2 separate regions of the Homo sapiens genome follow, and region 2 is linked to region 1. Evidence: fine-mapped expression QTL. A gene starts in region 1. The other region holds a variant in brackets. All regions are shown on one strand. Distances are from middle to middle. Region 1 holds the start of MICU2 (mitochondrial calcium uptake 2). Region 2 overlaps MICU2 (mitochondrial calcium uptake 2).

Region 1 (10,134 bases):
GGTTTAAAAAGTGTTTTCATTTTGAAGAAGTGATACTCTGAGATACTTACAACAACTCTAATATAGTACGAAAATATCTGAGATTTCTGTTGATGACAAAGGCAGTTACTGTAATACCACTATAGCTTGTTGCCTACATTCATTAAATGAAGAAAACATTAAACAATTTATGAAAACAATGAAACAAAATTTTTGTCGATGAAATTTTGTCAATGAAAACAAAAATGTAATCTTTTTTCTAAGTTCATGGATCCCCTAAATTCTATGCATGGACATATGGGGGTCCATGAGGGTTAAGAAATCCTGCAATGGCTTCCTGCTGTCCTCAAGATAAAAATTCCTGTCACATGGCTTATGGGACACTTAATGATCTGATTCCCAGCCATTGCTCACACCCAATTTTGAACCCCATCTTTTGCAGCTCTTACTCTGCTGAGTCCAACTCTTACTTCCAGATCTCTGTAAAGCTATCTCCTTTGCCTAGAAAACTCTTCCCCTTCTCTTTGCCTAGCAAACTTGCAGTCACCCTCCAGGTGTCAACCTACACATAATTCCTTCAGGAAACCAAGACTTTGTGAAATACTCTTCCACTATGCTTCCACAGCACCCAGTATTTAACCCTACCACAGCATTTATCACATTGTATTAAAACTGCCGTTCCCCATTAAACTGTAAGCACATAAACTGTGTCTCTAATCCCTGCTCCTGGCATATTGTCTAGCACAGAGTAAGATTTCAAAACTTGTGAAAGGAAGAAAGTAAAGAAAAAAGGAAGGTTCCAATTTATCTACTGTTTCATGACATGAAACTCTACCCTTAATTCCCGACTGACCCTCACAAATGCAAGCTGTTGGTCACAATGGGAACTAGAAAAGTGTAGGACTCCATTAATATAAATTTATATTTTTATTGGAAAAAAGCACTTAGTGTAATGACTGAAAATGAAGGACATATTCACTATTATTATTATTATTATTTTGAGACGGAGTCTTGCTCTGTCGCCCAGGCTGGACTGCAGTGGCAGGATCTCGGCTCCCTGCAAGCTCCGCCTCCCAGATTCACGCCATTCTCCTGCCTCAGGCCCCCGAGTGGCTGGGACTACAGGCGCCCGCCACCACGCCCAGCTAATTTTTTGTATTTTTAGTAGAGACGGGGTTTCACTGTGTTAGCCAGGATGGTCTCGATCTCCTGACCTCGTGATCCGCCCATCTCGGCCTCCCAAAGTGCTGGGATTACAGGCGTGAGCCACCAGGCCCGGCCGGACATATTCACTATTATTATAGGGCCGCGTCAGGAAGAGTTTACCAACTTGGAATACCAATGTAACTATATTAATGCATAAAATTCTATTGCAATGAAAGATTCATCACAAGCCAAAATTCTGGTATATATCTAGCTCAACTATGCACACCTGTCCCTAAAGTAGTGGTAGTAGGCCCACTTCTTAGGGAAATGTATCAAAATCACTGAGGCGAAGGCAAAGTTTTCAACCTATAGGTCCTCTCAATCCTTCCTGTATTCAGCCACTGATGCTGAAAGGAATGTCCACCGTGGTGGCAAAAGGATGAGAACCACTGTCTCGGTCCAATAGCAGATCAGGCAAATGCTATGCCAACAGACCTTATAAAACGATTGATAATAAAATGGTTTCTGTATTACTTTAGCTAAGATTAAACTTACAAAGCTGCAGGGAAGGAGAGCTGAGAGTTGGGAAGAGAATCCAAAATAACTACACTAGTGTGAAGCTTTTAGAATCAAGTCAGGGATTTCAAAGGAGAAAGATTAGAAGTGGGCCAGAAAAAAAAAAAACAATTAGATGGATAAGTGAAATCAAGAGTCTACAAATTGCAGCTGGCGGGTGAGCGGTATTTAAGTCTTGTTCTAGGGATAGTGAGTGAATCACTTTAGTGGGAAGGTGCCTGAGTAGTGTCAGGTCAGAGTGTGACTATAAAAGGCTCTGAAAGACAAAGTTTTAAAATGTGCATTTTGGCCGGGCGCTGTGGCTCACGCCAGTAATCCCAGCACTCTGGGAGGCCAAGGCAGGCGGATCACGAGGTCAGGAGATCGAGACCATCCTGGCCAACATGGTGAAACCCCGGCTCTACTAACAATACAAAAAAAAATTAGCTGGACGTGGTGGCGTATGCCTGTAATCCTAGCTACTTGGGAGGCTGAGGTAGGAGAATTACTTGAACCGGGGAGTTAAGAGGTTGTAGTGAGCCGGGATCACGCCACTGCACTCCAGCCTGGGTGACAGAGACTCCATCTCAACAACAAAAAAAAAGTGCATTTTACTCTTGGCAAAATGAGACACTGAAGAAGGGTTTCTGAAGAAGGGTACACTGTGTGGTTAAAGTGATACTCCGGAGAAGATTAACCTAAGGGTCTTAAAAACAGGATGAATCGGCCGGGCGCAGTGGCTCACGCCTGTAATTCCAGCACTTAGGGAGGCCAAGGCGGGCGGATCACGAGGTCAGGAGATCGAGACCATCCTGGCTAATACGGTGAAACCCCGTCTCTACTAAAAACACAAAAAATTAGCCGGGCGCGATGGCGGGCGCCTGTAGTCCCAGCTACTCGGGAGGCTGAGGCAGGAGAATGGCGTGAACCCGGGAGGCGGAGCTTGCAGTAAGCCGAGATAGCGCCACTGCAGTCCGGCCTGGGCGACAGAGCGAGACTCCTCTCAAAAAAAACAAAAACAAAAACAAAAAACAAACAAAAAAACCAGGATGAATCTAGGGGAGAGAAACTAATGATGAATACACTGAACTCCTTGGCACAAGATTCACAAAAATGCTATAAAAACACTAGATAATAGATCTTTCCATTATATATGTTTACAATATAATTATAATGTATGTTAATACAAATAAGGAATATCAGTTGCCAATACTTAATTTTAACTCACAAGGCCTTCTTTCCTCTCTTTTTTGTTGTATCTGAATGTTCCTTGAGTTTTTCGCTAGAAAGGCATAATGTAAATCTAAAAAAGAAAATAATAAACTACTACTTTCAATTTTCAAAAAAGCTCATATGTAAAAACTTACTAAGTCTACAAAAATTTTAAAGCACTACTCATTCAAATTTTCAAATGCGTTACAACATCATTTATCCTGAAATAGGGAACTTGAATCTTTTTTTTTTTTTTTTGAGACGGAGTTTCGCTCTTGTAGCTCAGGCTGGAGTGCAATGGCTCGATCTTGGCTCACTGCAACCTCCGCCTCCCGGATTCAAGCGGTTCTCCTACTTCAGCCTCCCGCCACCACACCCAGCTAATTGTTTATATTTTTTAGTAGAGACCGGGGGGGCGGGGCTGGGGTGGGGAGCGGCTTCACCATGTTGGCCAGGCTGGTCTCGAACTCCTGACCTCAGGAGATCCACCCGCCTCGGCCTCCCAAAGCCCTGGGATTAAAGGCGTGTGCCACCGCGCCCGGCGGACTCTTGTCTTTAATAGATGGAGGTTTTAGGAGCAATTTTTGCTTAGAACTTATGGTCCACTAAGATATTAAGGTTTATAATCATGCAATAATGTTCCTTAAAGTTGATAATAAAATCTGGAAATCAACTGGTTAATTTTTGTGGCTGACACATTCGTGACTTAAAAAAGCAATCGACAGAACTTCATCATGCTATACAAAGAAAAGATCGTAAAACTTAGTTGCAAAGCTTAACAAAGGTATATCCCACAGGGGTAACTGGACGCAAACCACCTGCGGATGTGAATGCCACTTCACTGACCAGAGAGGTAGCAAGAGGCGAGGCGCAGTGAGATTCTGAATTAGGAGCCTCGAATTAAGACACGCCCACACTCATCACCACTAAATTAGTGCGGCCAGTTTTGTGGGCCGTGGTGTTCAGCGTCCGCGGGGTTCTCCCAAGGGAGGCAGAATCTCCGGTCACCAGCCTCGAAGGCCCTCGGGGACTCAGGCCGGGGGCCGGTCCAGGAAGGAGCGAGTCCCACCAGTCGCAGGGCGCTCCGATCCGCAGCGGCACCTCCACCCACGGCTCCGGGAGAGCCGCCCAGAGCCAAACCACTCCCCGCCTAAGGGCGTCAGGGGAGGGAGGAGCTTGACTGGGGCTAGCAGAAGGAGTTAGTCCTGTACCTGTGCGGAGACTGTAAAACTGCCATCCCGCGCCGCAACACTGACGCGGCTGTGGTGCCAGGCCGCTCCTGCTCCTGCCAGGGCCGCGCCGGCCACTGCCGCTGCCAAGGGGCCGGGACTCCGCACAGCCTGTCGGCTGACAGCGAGCCCCCGTCGCAGTTTTCCGCCCCAGGCCGCCACCCGCGCGCAGCTACCCGCAGCCGCCGCCATCTTTGCGGAAGCGCAGCTAGGCGGCGCTTCTCTCCCGGCGCCGCCGCCTACCGCTTGGGAACTCTCGCGACATCCGACAGGCTTCCGCCCCGCCTACCGGGCCTGCGCCGTGGGTGCGGTTGCTGAGGCGACGCTCGCAGCCGCAAGAGGTGGCCTTCGGTTCCGGGGCTGCCTTCTAAGGCTGTGGGGATGGGATGACAGGAAGAGTATCAAGACAGTATAATATGACTTCCTAGTCCAAAACAAGATAGTGCCCTCGGTTGTGTGGGCAGGTTTCTCCTTTTCATTTTTTCACCTTGTAAAACTGTGAAACGTTTTTTGAAATAGTCTCTTCTGCATCTGTGTTGTTCATGTCTTCCTATGCTTATAGTCTTGACTGTTCTTTCATTTCTGCTAAAACAACTCTCAGACAAGGCATTCTGTTTATTTCAGTCCCTCACTATTTGCTTATAATGAATTTAAATTCAGTTTCAACAAAAGGTTTGATAGTAGCTCTTATCCTACCTAGAACTAAAAGTCAGAGACAGCAGCACACCAGCCCCATGTCTCTATCATCAGGGACCCAGAGGTTTTCCCCAGTGCAGATTTAGAACGATACCTCCAGTCCTGGCTGTTGCATTGGTGATAAGTGATGTAGCTGAGGCAGACTACTTGGTTTTATTTAACAGCCTCCAATCCTCCATTCTTTGGTCTTCACTTTTCCTGAGTAACTCTTTTTAATAAACTCTTTGTTCAGCCTCTGAAATGTCCCCAGCTATTAGAAGCTTTAGTTGGGCATGCAGTAACGGAGCCAACATCAAAGGGGCCAAGACTCCTAATCACATAATCACTGCTGTCTTGAAGTTTTGCACAAAACAAAACTTCAAGAAACAAAAACAAAAACCTGTCACACGAAATCTAATTTGATCATTCAGTGGAAGTTCCGTGGATCCCTTTGTTATTATCTGCCCTTAATCCTTGCTCCCTTTCTCTTAGCCCGCTTGTCTAAATTAATCTGCAGTCAGAGGTTCCTCACTTTTCCGTCAGCTTCTGGACTTACTTTTCAGTGTGCCTTCCCAGGTAGGAAGTAGAGAGATGAGCCTCACTTCACCGACTTGTGAGCCAGACCTCAAGGTTTGAATCTTAGCTCTACCAGGATGATCACTGTGGTTTGGGGCAAATTATTTAATCTCTCTGAGTCTCCATTTTCTCATTTGTAAATAACTCACGATTTGGTAGATGATCACTGCTATTTGGGGTAAGGTATTTAATCTCTTTGAGTCTCAATTTTTTCATCTGTGAACAACCCTCTTACAGTTTGGGGTGGGGAAGCTAAATGAGATATTTTATATAAAGTGACTAGCCAAATGCCTGGCACATGGTAGGCTCATGACAGATGTGCGTTTACTGTGGTCAAGGTTTGGTTTACTTCTGCCCTGTGAACACAAATGAGCTTGACTGAATGTCCATGATTCCAGATCACTAGCCCATCTTAACCTGAGATTTTCCTGCTTTTTTGTATCTAGCCTGACTTTGTCAACCTCTGGACTGTTTTTCACCTCTGCTAACTCTGGTAGCTTTGGCACATGTCCTGCTTTTCTGGACTATTGACATCTAGCTTGTTTCCTGGTGATAATAGGACTTCCAGGATATTTTGGACACCCTGGATGTCTTACCTTGTAGTTTATTCTTGATTTCCAGAAACCACAGTCTTTACGTGTATACTTCTAACTGCCTCACACAGTTCCTCTAGGTATTTAATGAAACCTGGCATCTATTACTCAGTATTGCCTTAAGCCCAAGATAAGTTTAGATTCCCATTAAAACATGTAGCATATTTAAGAACATTGTCTTTCTCCCACAATTTGACATCCTTGTGGGTGAGATGTCTTCCTTTTCCCTGTTTCTCTAGCACCTAGCACAATGCCCAGCACGTAATAGACATTCAATGAGTGAGTAAATAAGTGAATAAATAAATGGCACAAATGAAACTCAGGGGTTCATATTTCTATGCTTTGGCCATCCAAAATACAGAAGTATATTATTCCTTTGGGGTACTTTATTTTCAAAACAAAAGCTTCTTTTTATTTTGCCAAAAATCTTTGAACCCACTTGGAAAACAGTGTAATTAGTTATTTTTTAAATTTTCATTATGTGCCCAGGCATCTAGAACTCTCACTTATAATTTAATGTATTCAAACTTTTCTTATGCAGAGGAAACAAATTCTTATAATAGAACCAATCTCTAGTCGAATAACCATTCTAAGTATGAAATCTTCCTTGGCAGCTGCTGACATTTGTCTAAGCACATTGACTATATTGGTCTTTTTGGGCTCCAGCTTTGTTCATTTCTTCATCATCAGCTGTAAAGTCCTGGGCTGGGATGTATTTTCAACCATGCAGTTTATAAACCAACCCCCAAATAAGAAGCTGCTTCTAAAGCTGTACATTGTATGCTGTTTTAAATAACTGGACGAAAACAGGATGGAAATACTTATTGTTTCAAAGTATTCTTAATTCACTTACTCCTGCTCTTTTTTTCTGAAGAAGAACGAAAGTGATATGTCAGAAAAACTGCTCTTAAGGAGCTTTATTTTCACTGGAGAGGCTAGGCTTGAATTTCAAAACAATTGTCTCTGACTTTTATACTGTACAGAGAAGCAAGGGTGAGGTGGGCTGGCACAGGCAGAAAAGCATCTAGGGAAGACAGAAGACTTGATCTGGAACTTGCTGGGGTCTGAGGCAGGGTGAGAGCCTGGGGGAGGGTGCATACAGTGTGTGCTGACAGGCTTGGTGCAGAAGGGCTAGCTGGGGACTGGCTTGGAGTGTCCTGAGGGCCAGGCAGGGGCCACACAATGATCTCCAGTCTGTGGAACAGTTGTCAGCCCCCTTGACCCTCTGCACATTTGTCACTGGCGTATTCATGCTTCCCTTTCAGCGTCCCCACCCGCCTTGAGGCTGAGCTCCTCTTCTGAATCTCAGATGCTCCACCAGTGTATTTCTTCTGCTTGCCCGGACTTTATCCTGGCCTTTCTTAGCCGCTATCCACACGCTTCTTCAAATTATTGTCCTTTTTACTGACAATCAAAACTTCGATTCCCTCTGGGTTACTGGTCTTGAACAAAAGAGGTCAACTAGTTTTTTTACTGAAGATATCTACTCCTTTGTATTTCCATTTTAGAAGAAATTATTAACTCAAACACATCTTTGATCTTAGCATGTGTGGGGAGAAAAACAAAAATTGCTATTGGATTCTGAAAGATTGTTTACTGCTCTATTCCAGAATAATGTGCACTGAGACAGATTATCTTAGGTGGAGGAGAAAAAATATGGGAGATCTCAAAAGATTAGTTAAAGAGGTTGGACTCCTATAGGAATGAAGTAAAAAGCATATGCATGGATATTATAAAGAACCATTGCTTGGAATAGTCAGAGGTTGAACTATATTTATGGTGGATAATTGTGTAGCAGAGGGTATGAATCACTCTCAGAGGCCCTAAATGAGTCAAAAGAACTGCTAATTATGTCTTTTTGTGCAGTTTGGGGCCATGAGTAAAAATATCTGGGTATCGTGATTGATACCAGCATGTGTAGAAATAGGTTAAAGTGAAATCTTACTGACAGTGAGAAAGCAGTGCCCAGAGGAGCGTTTTGTATGTCTTTCAGATCCTCGTCTGCATCTTATTACCTTCCCTTCCTCGCAGTGCAGCTCCCATTACCTTGCCCTGTGATTATTGTGACCATCTCTTAACATGTGCCTTTGCTTCGTCTTTCTCTTCTCTGAAGCATCCCACAGATCTATGTTAGATCAATCTTCCTAAAACATTTCTTTCACCATACATCCATTAGCTCTGTGATTTACCCTTCCTAAGCCTCTGTCTCCCAGTTGGAAAATGAGGAGATGGGTTTTGGTTTATTTTTACACTTCTAAAATTCTTTTTGTATGCCACTCCGAAGTGTCTTTTTTTTCTGCTCAGTTGACAAACTGTATCGAATGTGAAATATGTGCCAGGCATGGGACCACACGTTGGAGACAACAAGCACAAATAGGATAGAGCTTCCTGGGCACGGGCTGTGGTCTCACACATTGGCTTATGCCCTCTATGCTGAAAACTTTTAAAAGTATGTAACCTGCCATTTATGTATGCTTATTTCTTAAATCTACACATTTACAACTAAATGTTAAAAGCCACATAGTAAGAATGTAAATGGTGATGTAAAGATGAATTAGTATTTACAAAATAAAATTGTATTTTTATTATTAAAGATGCAATGAATGTTTTATTCTAAAACTGTTAGTATTTTAGTGAGATCTATGTGATTAAATTGGCTTCATTAACTTGGAAAATGCTGATTTAGGTTTTATGAGATAGAAGGTCTGGTATTATGTTGAGTTAATTTATACATTAGTTTTTGATGACTGTCATAGCTCAAAAAGGTACCTCACAAAAATATATTAATCTGAATGGAGGGAGTGACTGTACTATTAGTTGAGGTAATGAAACCATTATACTTGTCTTTTTTTAGCTTTTTCTTATGAAAAATTCAAATATATATAAAATTAGACTAGAATGATGAGTAGAGCTGGACTTCCACAATTACAAACTCATGGCCAGTCTTATTTCATCTCCACCTTCTCCTTTTCCCTCAGTTAGATTATGTTGGCATAGCCCCCAGGCTCATATAATTTTATTCTACATATTTTATTATGTATTTTTATTTTTATTTTTTATTTTGTGTGTATGTGTGCGTGTGTGTGTTTGAGACAGAGTCTCACTGTGTCATCCAGGCTGGAGTGTAGTGGCGCGATCTCAGCTCACTGCAACCTCTGCTTCAGAGGTTCAAGCAATTCTCGTGCATCAGCCTCCCGAGTAGCTGTGATTACAGGCGTGTGCCACCTTGCCTGGTTAAATTTTGTATTTTTTGTAGAGATGAGGTTTCACCATGTTGATCAGGCTGGTCTCAAACTCCTGGCCTCAAGTGATCCTCCCTCTTCGTCCTCCCAAAGTGCTGGGATTACAGACATGAGTCACTGTGGCCAGCTCATTATGGATTTTTAAAAGATGAGTGCTCATAAAAAGAAAACCCACACACCAATATTTTGTTTTTGTATTTCTTAATAATGCTTATAATCCAATGGAAACAAACATTTACTGAAGAAAAAAAGTTGTGTAAATTGCTGAAAATGCTAGGAGGCTGGGGGGACACTAACAGAAAGAAGATTAAAAAGTCTGTTGTATGAGTGTTGTGTAACACTTCCACATCTCAGGGAGAGGGATCTGTGTTCTCATAAAGTACACTTACGAAAATTAGTGACAGCACAACATTTGAGGTTGCAAAAAAATATTTTTTCTGGAAACACGTTTATGGAACAGATTGTGTATGTCAGAAGAATTTGATTGGTATTTTAAAATCCGTTATAATATCTCCAAAGTTCGGTGTAGCCCACCAAAGGAGACAATTCACACTTTCTTTCCTTTGCTCCTTTTCAGCTGTAAAATGTACATCTCAAGCACATCAAAGATGGTGACAGAGAAGAGTTAAGAAAGACAGCACATCCAGAGGAGCAAGGGACAAGATCTAAATAATTTCATGAAATGTTCCTTGATCCCAAGATTTCTGCAGAAATGTTCAAGTCTGTGATGTGTATTCTTGTGCATTGAGACATCCAGAATTTAATAGCCTGTTCTTAACTATGCAGAAGACCAAGCCACTAAGTAAATGCAAATGCTTTGACATTTTTATTGTTTCTTAAAAACCCAAATGAAAATTTCAATTTCATCTTTCATTCCTTTTCCCCAAAGCCAGTCTGCTGGTTAGCTGTCTTTAGTCTACAGCACGG
Region 2 (10,367 bases), 110 kb before region 1:
TCAAAGTTTTCCTGCTTGGAGTTCATTGAGCTTCTTAGATGTATATATTCATGTTTTTAATCAGATTTGGGAAGTTGTCAGCTATTATTTCTTCAAATTTTTTGCTGCTCCTTTCTCTATGTCTTCTCCTTCTGGGATTCCTATAATGTGTATTTGGTATGCTTGATGAGGTCCCATAGGTTCCTCAGGCTGTCTTCATTTTTCTTCACTCTTTCTTTCTTTTCCCTAGACTGGGTAATTTTCAATGTCTTATCTTCAATTTTGCCAGTCCTCTCTTTTCCTTGTTCAAACTTGCTGTTGAATCCCTCTATTGCATTTTTCATTTTAGTTATTGCAGATTTTGTTTGGCTCCTTTTTATAATTTCTATTTATACTTTCATTTTGTTCAGACATTGTTTTCTTGATTTCTATTAGTGTTTATTCATGGTTTCCTTTAGAAAACATATTGAACATATTTAAAACAATTGATTTAACATCTTTGACTAATAATTCCAAAGTCTGGTCTTCTTTAGGTATGGTTTCTGTGAAATTCTTTATATCCTGTGAATGGATCATACTTTCCTGTTGCTTTACATGTTTTATAATTTTTTGTTGAGAACTGGTTATTCTGAGCATTATGTTGTAGTAACTCTGGAATCTAATTCTACTCCTTAGGGATTGCTTGTTTTTGCTTGTTGTGGGCTGGACCCATTCCTATTTGTGCCTTTTCCAAACAATGTATCTTCCTTGTTGTGTGTGGCTACTGAGGTTTCTTTTCTGTTATCTCTACAGTTAGCCAGTAACCTGACAAAAATGTCCTTAAATGTCTGACTTTCAAGAAGGAGGGAAGATATCCTGTCTCTTTAAATCTCTTGTGGCTGGGAAGCTGCTTCAGCTTGTGAAGTGGGCATTAAAAAATGGTTGGCCTCCAGCCTGGCCCCTCATCACTTTATCAAAATCAGCAAGCAGCTAGCAGAACACATGACCCCCACTCCTGGAGGATAAGGTCTTTTGTGCTCACACTGGTTCCAGGAAGCTGCCCCAGGAATGTGGGCTGCTTCCCTGACAGTTTCCTGATGCTGGGTGGCAGGCTTTTTGCTGTTGCTGCTACATCACAAAAGGCTGAAGTTCACCAAAATTTACTAGCAACTTCATCAAACTCTCCCTCAAATGTCAGAAATGTTCCAAAATAAGACAATTCCTGCCAGTTCAATAGTTGTTTAGGTGAAGGGACAGATTCCTGGAGCCTCCTGCTCTGCTATCTTCCCTGACATCATTCCCTACATTATGCCTTTTTTTTGAGACAGAGTTTCACTTTGTTGCTCAGGCTGGAGTGCAATCTTGGCTCACTGCAACCTCTGCCTCCTGATTTCAAGCGATTCTCCTGCCTTGGCCTCCTGAGTCACTGGAATTACAGGTGCCTGCCATCACACCTGGCTAATCTCATGTTTTTAGTAGAGGCGGGGTTTCACCATGTTAGCCAGGCTGGTCTTGAATTCCTGACTTCAAGTGATCCTCCCGCCTCGGCCTCCCAAAGTGCTCGGATTACAGGCATGAGCCACCATGCCTGGCCTCTACATTATGCTTTGATTTTTATGATTTAACACCTGGAGGGTAACCTTGTTTCCAAACTTTGGGAGGACATTTCAATTTGTTTCCATTCCCAGAACCTGTTCTGCTTTCTAACCGTATCAGAACCCCTGGCCAGTCTCTCTTGATATTTGCTATCTGTGTCCAAAGCAGAGGCCAAACCAGAGCTGTCTTAAAGCTCCCTTAAGCCATCTACTCTCTCCTGTCCAGTCCTGTAACAGAAAAGCTGGTATGTGAGAACAGCTAAAGCACATATGGGGATTTTTTTTTTTTTTTTTTTTTTTGAGACAGAATCTCCCTCTGTCACTCAGGCTGGAATGTAGTGGCACAATCTCGGCCCACTGTAACCTCTGCCTCCCAGGTTCAAGTGATTCTCCTGTCTCAGCCTTCCGAGTAACTTGGACTACAGGTGCGTGCCAGGATGCCTCGCTAAATTTTTGTATTTTTAGTAGAGTTGGGGTTTTGCCATATTGGCCAGGCTGGTCTTGAACTCCTGACCTCAGGTGATCCGCCTGCCTCAGCCTCCCAAAGTGCTGGGATTAGCGGTGGGCATGAGCCACCGTGCCTGGCCCAGGGTTATTTCTTGTTCCACTTTCCTTTTTGTTAACTAATTCATAGGTCAAACATTTTTTTGAGCGAGTATGTGCTAGCTCTTTGATGGATGCTGGGAGATAGCGTTAAAGGAGTCATGTTGTTGCTATCAATGAGCTCATAGCCAAGGGGAAGAGGCAAATACATAAAAGAATTCCAGTATACTTTAATGAGGCTTGAAAGATATGTGGACAGAAACGTGTGAGGGAACTAACAGCATGTATCCCTAAATGAATTTGAGGGAAAAGCAGGGAGAAAAATGGAAAACTTTGCAGATGAAATGGCACTGGAAGTTAGGCAGGTGGGAGCATCTTCAACAGAAGCACTAGTAAGTGCAAACACTTGGAGAGTGAGAACATGGCCAAGCGGGGTGATGAGAAGTAATTCAGTATTGTTGTAGTGTAAAGTGTGTGGTGGCAAGTGTTAGGATATGAGAAAGATAGATGGGGCAAGATCATGTAGAGTTGAATTTTATTTTTTAAGCGATTTTAGTGTCGTAAGATTATCAGAAGCGTAGTGACATGATCAGATTTATGTTTCAGAAAATAAGTCTGTTGTGAAGGAGGATCTGAAATAAGAAGTTAACAGCATTAATATTTAAAAGCTGCTAAAGGTTTACTCCAGTGCATTTCATACATCATCTCAATCCTTACAAAAAGGCTATGACATCACAACTAAAATCATTCCTTTTTAGATTAAAAATGGGCACAGAGAGCTCAAGTACTTTGCCAAACGGTTATGTGGTGAGTTATATAACTAATGTGGTGAAGCTGAGATTTGAATCCAGGTAGTCTAACAGCAGAGTTTGGATGCTTAATTGCTGTGCCTTACAAGGGGCCGGACAAAGGGCAAGTTAGGATTCCACGGAGATCATCTAAGTAATGAATGATCAGGGCTTGCACTAAGGCAGTGGCAACAGTGTTGTAAGGTGGAGCACATGTCTGGCGATTTTGAGGAAGCAGAATTCACAGGACATGATTGACTATAGAGGAGTAAGGGAGTGAGGATCCGGGATGACTGTCTGGTTCCTAGTTGGTTTCTTGTAGGAGACCCGTTCACTAAGGCAGAAGACATGTGAAGAAATGAGGTTTGGAAAAAGAGGGGGACATAATCAGGTCAGTTTTGGATGTGCTTGAGTTGGACAAACCAAATGGAGAAATCTAGAAAGCAACTGGGCCTGAAGGTGAGGAGAGAACAGAAGCCAGAGGGGTGATGAGATTCCTGAGGGGATGGGCAAGGAGGAGAAGATCCGTGAAGGCAGGGCTCAGATACCCCCTGCAACTGTCTCCCACCTTGAAGGGATAAGCAGAGAAATACAAGCTATCTACCAGAATATCAGACCTAGTGATCATTTATTTAACAAAATGATAGTAAAGAAACAAATGACTGAAGATTCATGCAGTTTAGATTTTTAGGAAGTCCAGCTGCTTTCAAGGTAAATGTCTCCGTACTCCTAGGAGATATTGGCAAATCTAGTTTGCTTATTTGATATATATTTATCCCTATTTTTTTCAAATGGGATCAAGTACTTTTGTAGTAATGACATGACAAACATTATTCGTTTTCAGAAATCTTTTCAGTTATAGTAATTTCCTTTTAGCCTTGAAAAATGGAAAACTATCCTCAACCCTCTAAATACTCTTGTTGTAAGAAAGTCTTCTGATCTCTAACATCACTTTTTTTTTTTTAAATCTTAGTTTTTAATTGTATATATATACTTAAAATGTTTCCTGGTTAGTTTTCAGTCTTCACCTTCTGCAAGTTCCATGACAGCAGGAACCATTTATTTCACCACTGTATGCTTGGGGCCTAGCAGGTTTTTGGCATACTTCTTGATTAACTCATGAACTTTACTAGCTCCTCCCATCCCAAATCTCCTCCTTTCCTCCCTCCCTCCCTCTCTTCTTTCCTTCTGTTCAACAAATATTTGTTGGATGCCTACTGTAAGCCAGGGATTCAGCTTAGACTGGTATATAAAGATGACTAAGGCAGTGCTCCTGCTCTTAATACTTTGGTAGATACAAACTTGGTATGTGGGTAGCACCTTGATGTCTAGAATTTCACCAAGAAGATAGCAAGGGGGCCGGGTGCGTTGGCTCACGCCTGTAATCCCAGCACTTTGGGAGGCCGAGGCAGGTGGACCATGAGGTCAGGAGATCAAGATCATCCTGGCCAACATGGTGAAACCCCGTCTCTACTAAAAAATACAAAAAAATGAGTCGGGCGTGGTGGCGGGTGCCTGTAGTCCCAGCTACTCAGGAGGCTGAGGCAGGAGAATGGCATGAACCCAGGAGGCAGAGCTTGCAGTGAGCCGAGATCGTGCCACTGCACTCCAGCCTGGGCAACAGAGTGAGACTCCGTCTCAAAAAAAAAAAAAAAAAAAAAAAAAGATAGCGAGGGAAAGGCATCGCTGTCAGAAGGAAATGGCATGTGTAACAAGCTTAGGGGTAGGGGTATGTGAAACGCACATGGTGTACATGAGGAAAGGCCAGGAGCTTTATGTCGCTGGAGCACAAAACAGTATTCATGGAATGCTGTGGAAAGTGGGGCAGACAAATCAGTGCCAGGTGAGGCTGAAAAAGTGAAGCCTGTGAAGGCATGAGAAACCATCTTAATTTTTGGATTTTTGTGCCCCTAATCTTGACCCATAAGGGCATCTGGAAAGACAGGTGAGGAGTCAGCATTTTTGTGGTTGACAGAGAAAATGGTGGAGGATTCATTCATTCATACTTATACTTTCTTGCATTGCCTATCTTTTGGTTTTATAAGAGAGAGAAAAAATTATTTTATAAGCAATTATTTATAAAACAATTCATTAGAGCAAATTTGTTTTTGAATCAGGAGCAAAATATTTTTTGTAATAAATGGACAAAAGCTTTTGCCTCTTGTCGATTTCAATCATTAAACTGTGAGGGAGAGTTTTTCAATTTAGTGGATTAACATATTTCAAGGCATTATCCTTCAACAATAAGGGAGAGGTTTCTCTGGCCTCATTAATTTTTGGTGTAAACTCATGAATTCTTATTTCATTCAATAGGCTATAATCTATTACGGACATTAATTATTCTGACCCTCAAACTGAACCAGATTTGACAGGGGCAGCCCCTTCAAGCTGGCTTTGTCCTTCTGACTCTTCACCATTTTGTGAGCCCTTCTTTACTTTTAGGCACAATATATTCTAGGCTTATCTTGGACTTTCCCTGTCACGGCCTTGGGATCAGCCAGTTCTCTAGAGAATGGAACTGGTTTTATATATTTGCAATTTTCTAAATTGTGTGTCTGAGACACAAGTTTTTTATAATTTTTATTTACCAGGTTTTAAAAAATGCCATTTGATATTCAGTTTAATGCCAATTACCTTCTGGCAACATTTGTTTCCCACAACCTAATATATCCCATGAGCCCCTGACCTTGGGGTCAAAATTTCTCCCAGCTACACCAGGTTTTAAGAACTAATGAGGCTGGCAAGGGATGAGAGTATTTACAATTTTTTTTAAAGTAGTTTTAAAAACACATGTAAAATAAAAAGCACCTCAGTATTTTTTGTATCTATGTAAATATTTTATTCTGCTTCCAGATAGAACATTGAAGTTTACATGTTATTTTAAAGACAATAAACAGCTAAGCTACTGACATAAAATATGCAATAAATTTATGAGATATAAGGTACAGATGAGAAAAATCTGAAATAAGTTTTTAACTTCATTTAGCCTATTAGGAACATGAAGATGTCTGGAATTGATGCTGGCCTTGGTCTCAAGTACTTTTTCCCATATGTATTTGTTTTATCCTTCCAGAAAGCATATCATATTAGAGTGTCTAAGAAATCAGTGAATCACTAAGTTTTCCATCTTACCGAAGTACAAAACATTATTTCAAATCTAGGCCTTCTGACAGAATCCAATATCTATTTTTATACTTACTTTTCTTTCTACTAAGTTCTTTAATAAAATTATGAATCAGAAAGCAAGTACAAGACATGCTTATTTCACACAGAATATCAATGAAGACTTAAGAAGATAAATAGCAAGTACTTCTAAAAAATCACAAATTTTGACATTTGGAACAATATAATTGCCATACTATTATATCTTTTATTAAAAAAGACCTTTTCCAGCTTGTTTCCAGACTTCTTTTACTCCTTTAATGCTTTCTTTCTTCACACACTTCCAGTATTCTTGTATACTCTGATGTTGTGGTACCTGTTAACCGAAAGTAAAAATCAAGGGGTCATTGTCTTCAAGGTTAAACATGATTTCATATATACTTTACGTTACTGTTTATTTCCTTCCCACACTCCTCCAAAAATAGTTGAGGGTGAATTATGTTGTAAAAGATGATCACAACAGAACTGAAAATGGGGGTAAAAGACAAAAAGTGAATGTAACTA[T/C]GCTTAAGGTTACTAGGGAGTGGAACCAGACTGAGCACACATTAATGGAGTTTCTTCTCTAAGAGGGTAATGAAGACTTTGGGCCATCTCTTCTTTCACATACTGGCTTTAAAATTTAATTACTTTATAATGTTTTCCTTTTATAATGTTTTATAATCTTTCCCTTTTTTTCTGGTGAACTTTGTTTAGCTATGTAGAATACAATTATAAGCCTAAAGCTTTGATTTAACATTGGCTAAAATTAAAAAAAAAAAAGGCCACAAAGTATTTGATGAAAAGCTTCAAGAAATAATCTAATTCATGGACGTGTTTTGTTAGCTAAAAATACATGTGGATTACTACTACTCTCAACAAAATGAAAAGGTAAAGGTTAGGAAATATTTGGATCCGGGGGACCACAGGAGCATAGCACTGATGAAAATTAGCCAAGTGGAAGCAAAATTCTACTCCAGATTATATATGTTCTTTTTCTTATGACTGATTTACAGCTTTTCTTTTTAATGTCTTCTGAGAAAGGGCAAGGAGACTCCCAGGTACACTCAATTGTGAACTGAAAAGACTGGCTTAATTTCCCGGAATATATTTATGGGTGTTGGATAACTGCAAAGTTTATAAAATATTAATATGTTTGCTAATGAAAATAATATTTATTTTTCCCTAAGTTATGTTTGTTGCAGGAAATGGAATTGCTTTTCTAAGTTGTAAATAGCTTTATTTTCATGAATAGTACCATATTCTCTCTCTCTCTCCTTCCTTTTTTCTTGCCTACCTACCAACCATGTAGATTCTCTTTGGACCCTAGTCTTCCCCTGGCAGACTTCTTTTCTGAGAGTGCTTCTAGCACATTCTAATCTGAACAAAAATCTGAATTTGATTTGTCCCACAAGTATAGACTCATATGTGACTTTGAGTGAATAATGCTAATAGTGAAATTTACTTCATAATCTCAGCCACTATACTAAGTATTTTACATCAAATTCTAACAATAATGCTTTCTGGTAGATTAGTTTCCTCATGGTATGGGTCAAGAATCTGAGACTAAAAAAAATTAAGTGGCTTTGCAAGATTAAGCAGTTAATAAACAGTAGAGGTGGGATTTGAATTTACATATATCTAATTACATGTAGTTAGTCAAATCCTAGGCTATGATTTTTTTTCCCTTTTTTTGTAGAAACAGAGTCTCATGATGTTATCCACGCTGGTCTCAAACTCCTGGCCTCAAGTGATCCACCCGGCTCGGCCTCCCACAATGTGCTGGGATTACAGATGTGAGCCACCATGTCCAGCTAGGCTACATTTCTGAATAGTAATTTCTTTTTTAAAAAATTATTTTTTTTTGGAGACAAGGGCTTGCTCTGTTGCACAGTCTAGAGTGCAGTGGTGCGATCGTAGCTCACAGTCACTTTAAATAGTGATTTCTTATTAGATTCACATTATTTTTTAAAAAGCAAAGATGTTTAATCTCATATATAAAATATATTTCTGTATTTCAATTACAGCTTATAGTCTTTTTATAAGTGATGAAAACTCCATTTAAAGACTGTACAATTGCCCAAATTCTAGGTTTAATATCAGTTAATGACAATGTAAACATGTATTATATAAAAAAAATCTGTTACCCATAAACCTCGATGCATTCTGTTTTTTAACACCCCAAGAAACTCTTCATGACTAAGACATTCATCACCATCCAAATCAAAGATCTTAAAGACAGTGTCCAAAATATTGTTTGAGAGTTCTTGTCCTGTTGCTACTTTCACAGCTCTCTTAAACTCCGCTAAAAAACAAACATAAAACAACTTATCAACTATGTGAAATAGTCTAAGTGAAATTAATCTAAATTTTCATTATTTGAGAAGTAAAAGCAAATCCAAATTTTTATTATTTGGGAAGTAAAACAAAAACAAAAATACCCATGAAGAAAATATTCAAACCATAAGCCGACGAATGTCATGAGAGTCACTGCAAGACAAATGAGCTATTGTAATTTAATCAATGCTCTAAACATATATTTGAGATGAATCTTGCTCGTCGCCCAGGCTGGAGTGCAATGGCACGATCTTGACTCACTACAACCTCCGTCTCCCGGGTTCAAGCGATTCTCTTGCCTCGGCCTCCTGAATAGCTGGGATTACAGGCGCCTGCCACCACGCCCAGCTAGTTTTTGTATTTTTAGTAGAGATGGGGTTTCACCATGTTGGCCAGGCTGGTCTTGAACTCCTGACTTTGTGATCCGCCCACCTTGGACTCCCAAAGTGCTGGGATTACAGGCATGAGCCACCATGCCCGGCCTTCTTCCTTCTTTTTAGGAGAATGAGAAAATAAAAGTATAGAAAGTAACCATTAAACTGGAGTACTGGTATTCTAAATCTAGAATAACCACACTGAATTAAAAGGTCAATCAACTATTTTTACTTATAATTTGTTCCTTGATTGGTAGCATTTAGTTGAAGAATATAGTAAAACTGTTTATAGATGATAAAAATTAAATGGTTTTTCATATAACTTACCTAGTCTGACAGGACGATGAGCTAAACTGAACATCTGCATGGCAATAGCAAAGTCTTCCAAGTGGGTTGTAAAATGGCAAAATGACTTGAATTCATCCAAACTAATGCTCTAATAAAGTAAGAGTTTTTATTACAATTTTGTAAGTACATTAAATAATCTTATAAATGTTAACTATGAACTTTCTTTTCTACCGTAGAGACTAGTATCATTCTAAGAGGAAGAGACAACAGAGCTTTCTCTGTCCCTTTCTCTCTGTGTGCACACAGAAATGGCCACACAAAGGGCACAGTGAGAAGGTGCTGTGTGCAGGCTGGGCAAGAGGCCTCACCAGAAACTGGCCCTGCTGGTGCCTTGATCTTGGACTCCTGGCCTCCAGAACTGTGAGAAATAAATTTATTGTTTAAGCTGCCCAGCCTGTGGTGTTTTGAGGCGGCAGCTTGAAGAGACTAACATACTCTGTTAAGTGGTCCACTTCTGCTAAGTTTTATTAGTGGACATAGCACTGAGTAAGAGCACAGAGTTTTGGAGTTAGATGGACTTTTAATGCTGAAATTCCGGTTCTGCCCTTTATAACGTGTATGACCTTAGCCTCTCTAAGTCTTAGGTAAGTAACGCTTCAGGGGTTATGTAGTTTGCCCAAAGTCTACTAACTGGAACAATCAGGATCTGAACCTTGGTCCATCTGACTTCAAAATCTGAGCACTTACAAATAAAACAAATGGTGCGGGCGCGGTGACTGACGCCTGTAATCCCAGCACTTTGGGAGGCGGAGGCGGGCGGATCACGAGGTCGGAAGATGGAGACCATCCTAGCTAACACCATGAAATCCCTTCTCTACTAAAAACACAAAAACAAAAAAATTAGCCGGGCGTGGTGGCAGGCGCCTGTAGTCCCAGCTACTTGGGAGGCTGAGGCAGGAGAATGGTGTGAACCCAGGAGGCAGAGCTTGCAGTGAGCCGAGATCACGCCACAGCACTCCAGCCTGGGCGACAGAGCGAGACTCTGTCTCAAAAAATACATAACAAACAAACAAACAAACGGGCTGGGTGCTGTGGCTCATGTCTAATCCTAGCACTTTGGGAGGCCAAGGCAGGCAGATCACCTGAGGTCAGCAGTTCAAGACCAGTCTGGTCAACATGGTGAAAAAGAAAAAAAAAAAAAAATTAGCTGGGTGTGGTGGTGCACACCTGTAGTCCCAGCTATTTGGAAGGCTGAGGCAGGAGAATTGTTTAAACCCGTGAGGCGGAGGCTACAGTGAGCCAAGATCGCGCCACTGCACTCCAGCCTGGGTGATGGAGTGAGACTC

Evidence for each region. PIP is the estimated chance that this variant, and not a neighbour inherited with it, causes the effect.
Region 2: its variant is fine-mapped to the expression of MICU2 in whole blood (TOPMed, PIP 0.98).

Annotation. Positions count from the first base shown.
Region 1 is chr13:21,599,836-21,609,969 of GRCh38, forward strand. It overlaps MICU2 (mitochondrial calcium uptake 2), which reads right to left and starts at 4,335. Exons shown (of 12, transcript NM_152726.3): 1 at 4,104-4,335. The coding sequence starts at 4,313. RefSeq lists enhancers at 3,429-4,048, 4,049-4,667, 4,449-4,518 and a silencer at 4,069-4,278.
Region 2 is chr13:21,486,992-21,497,358 of GRCh38, forward strand. MICU2 (mitochondrial calcium uptake 2) reads right to left here. Exons shown (of 12, transcript NM_152726.3): 10 at 9,061-9,169; 11 at 8,170-8,327; 12 at 5,700-6,362. The coding sequence ends at 6,258. Among named protein-coding and RNA genes, the nearest start is that of ZDHHC20, 33 kb to the left of the region's middle. The variant T/C (reference allele first, on the strand shown) is at 6,551.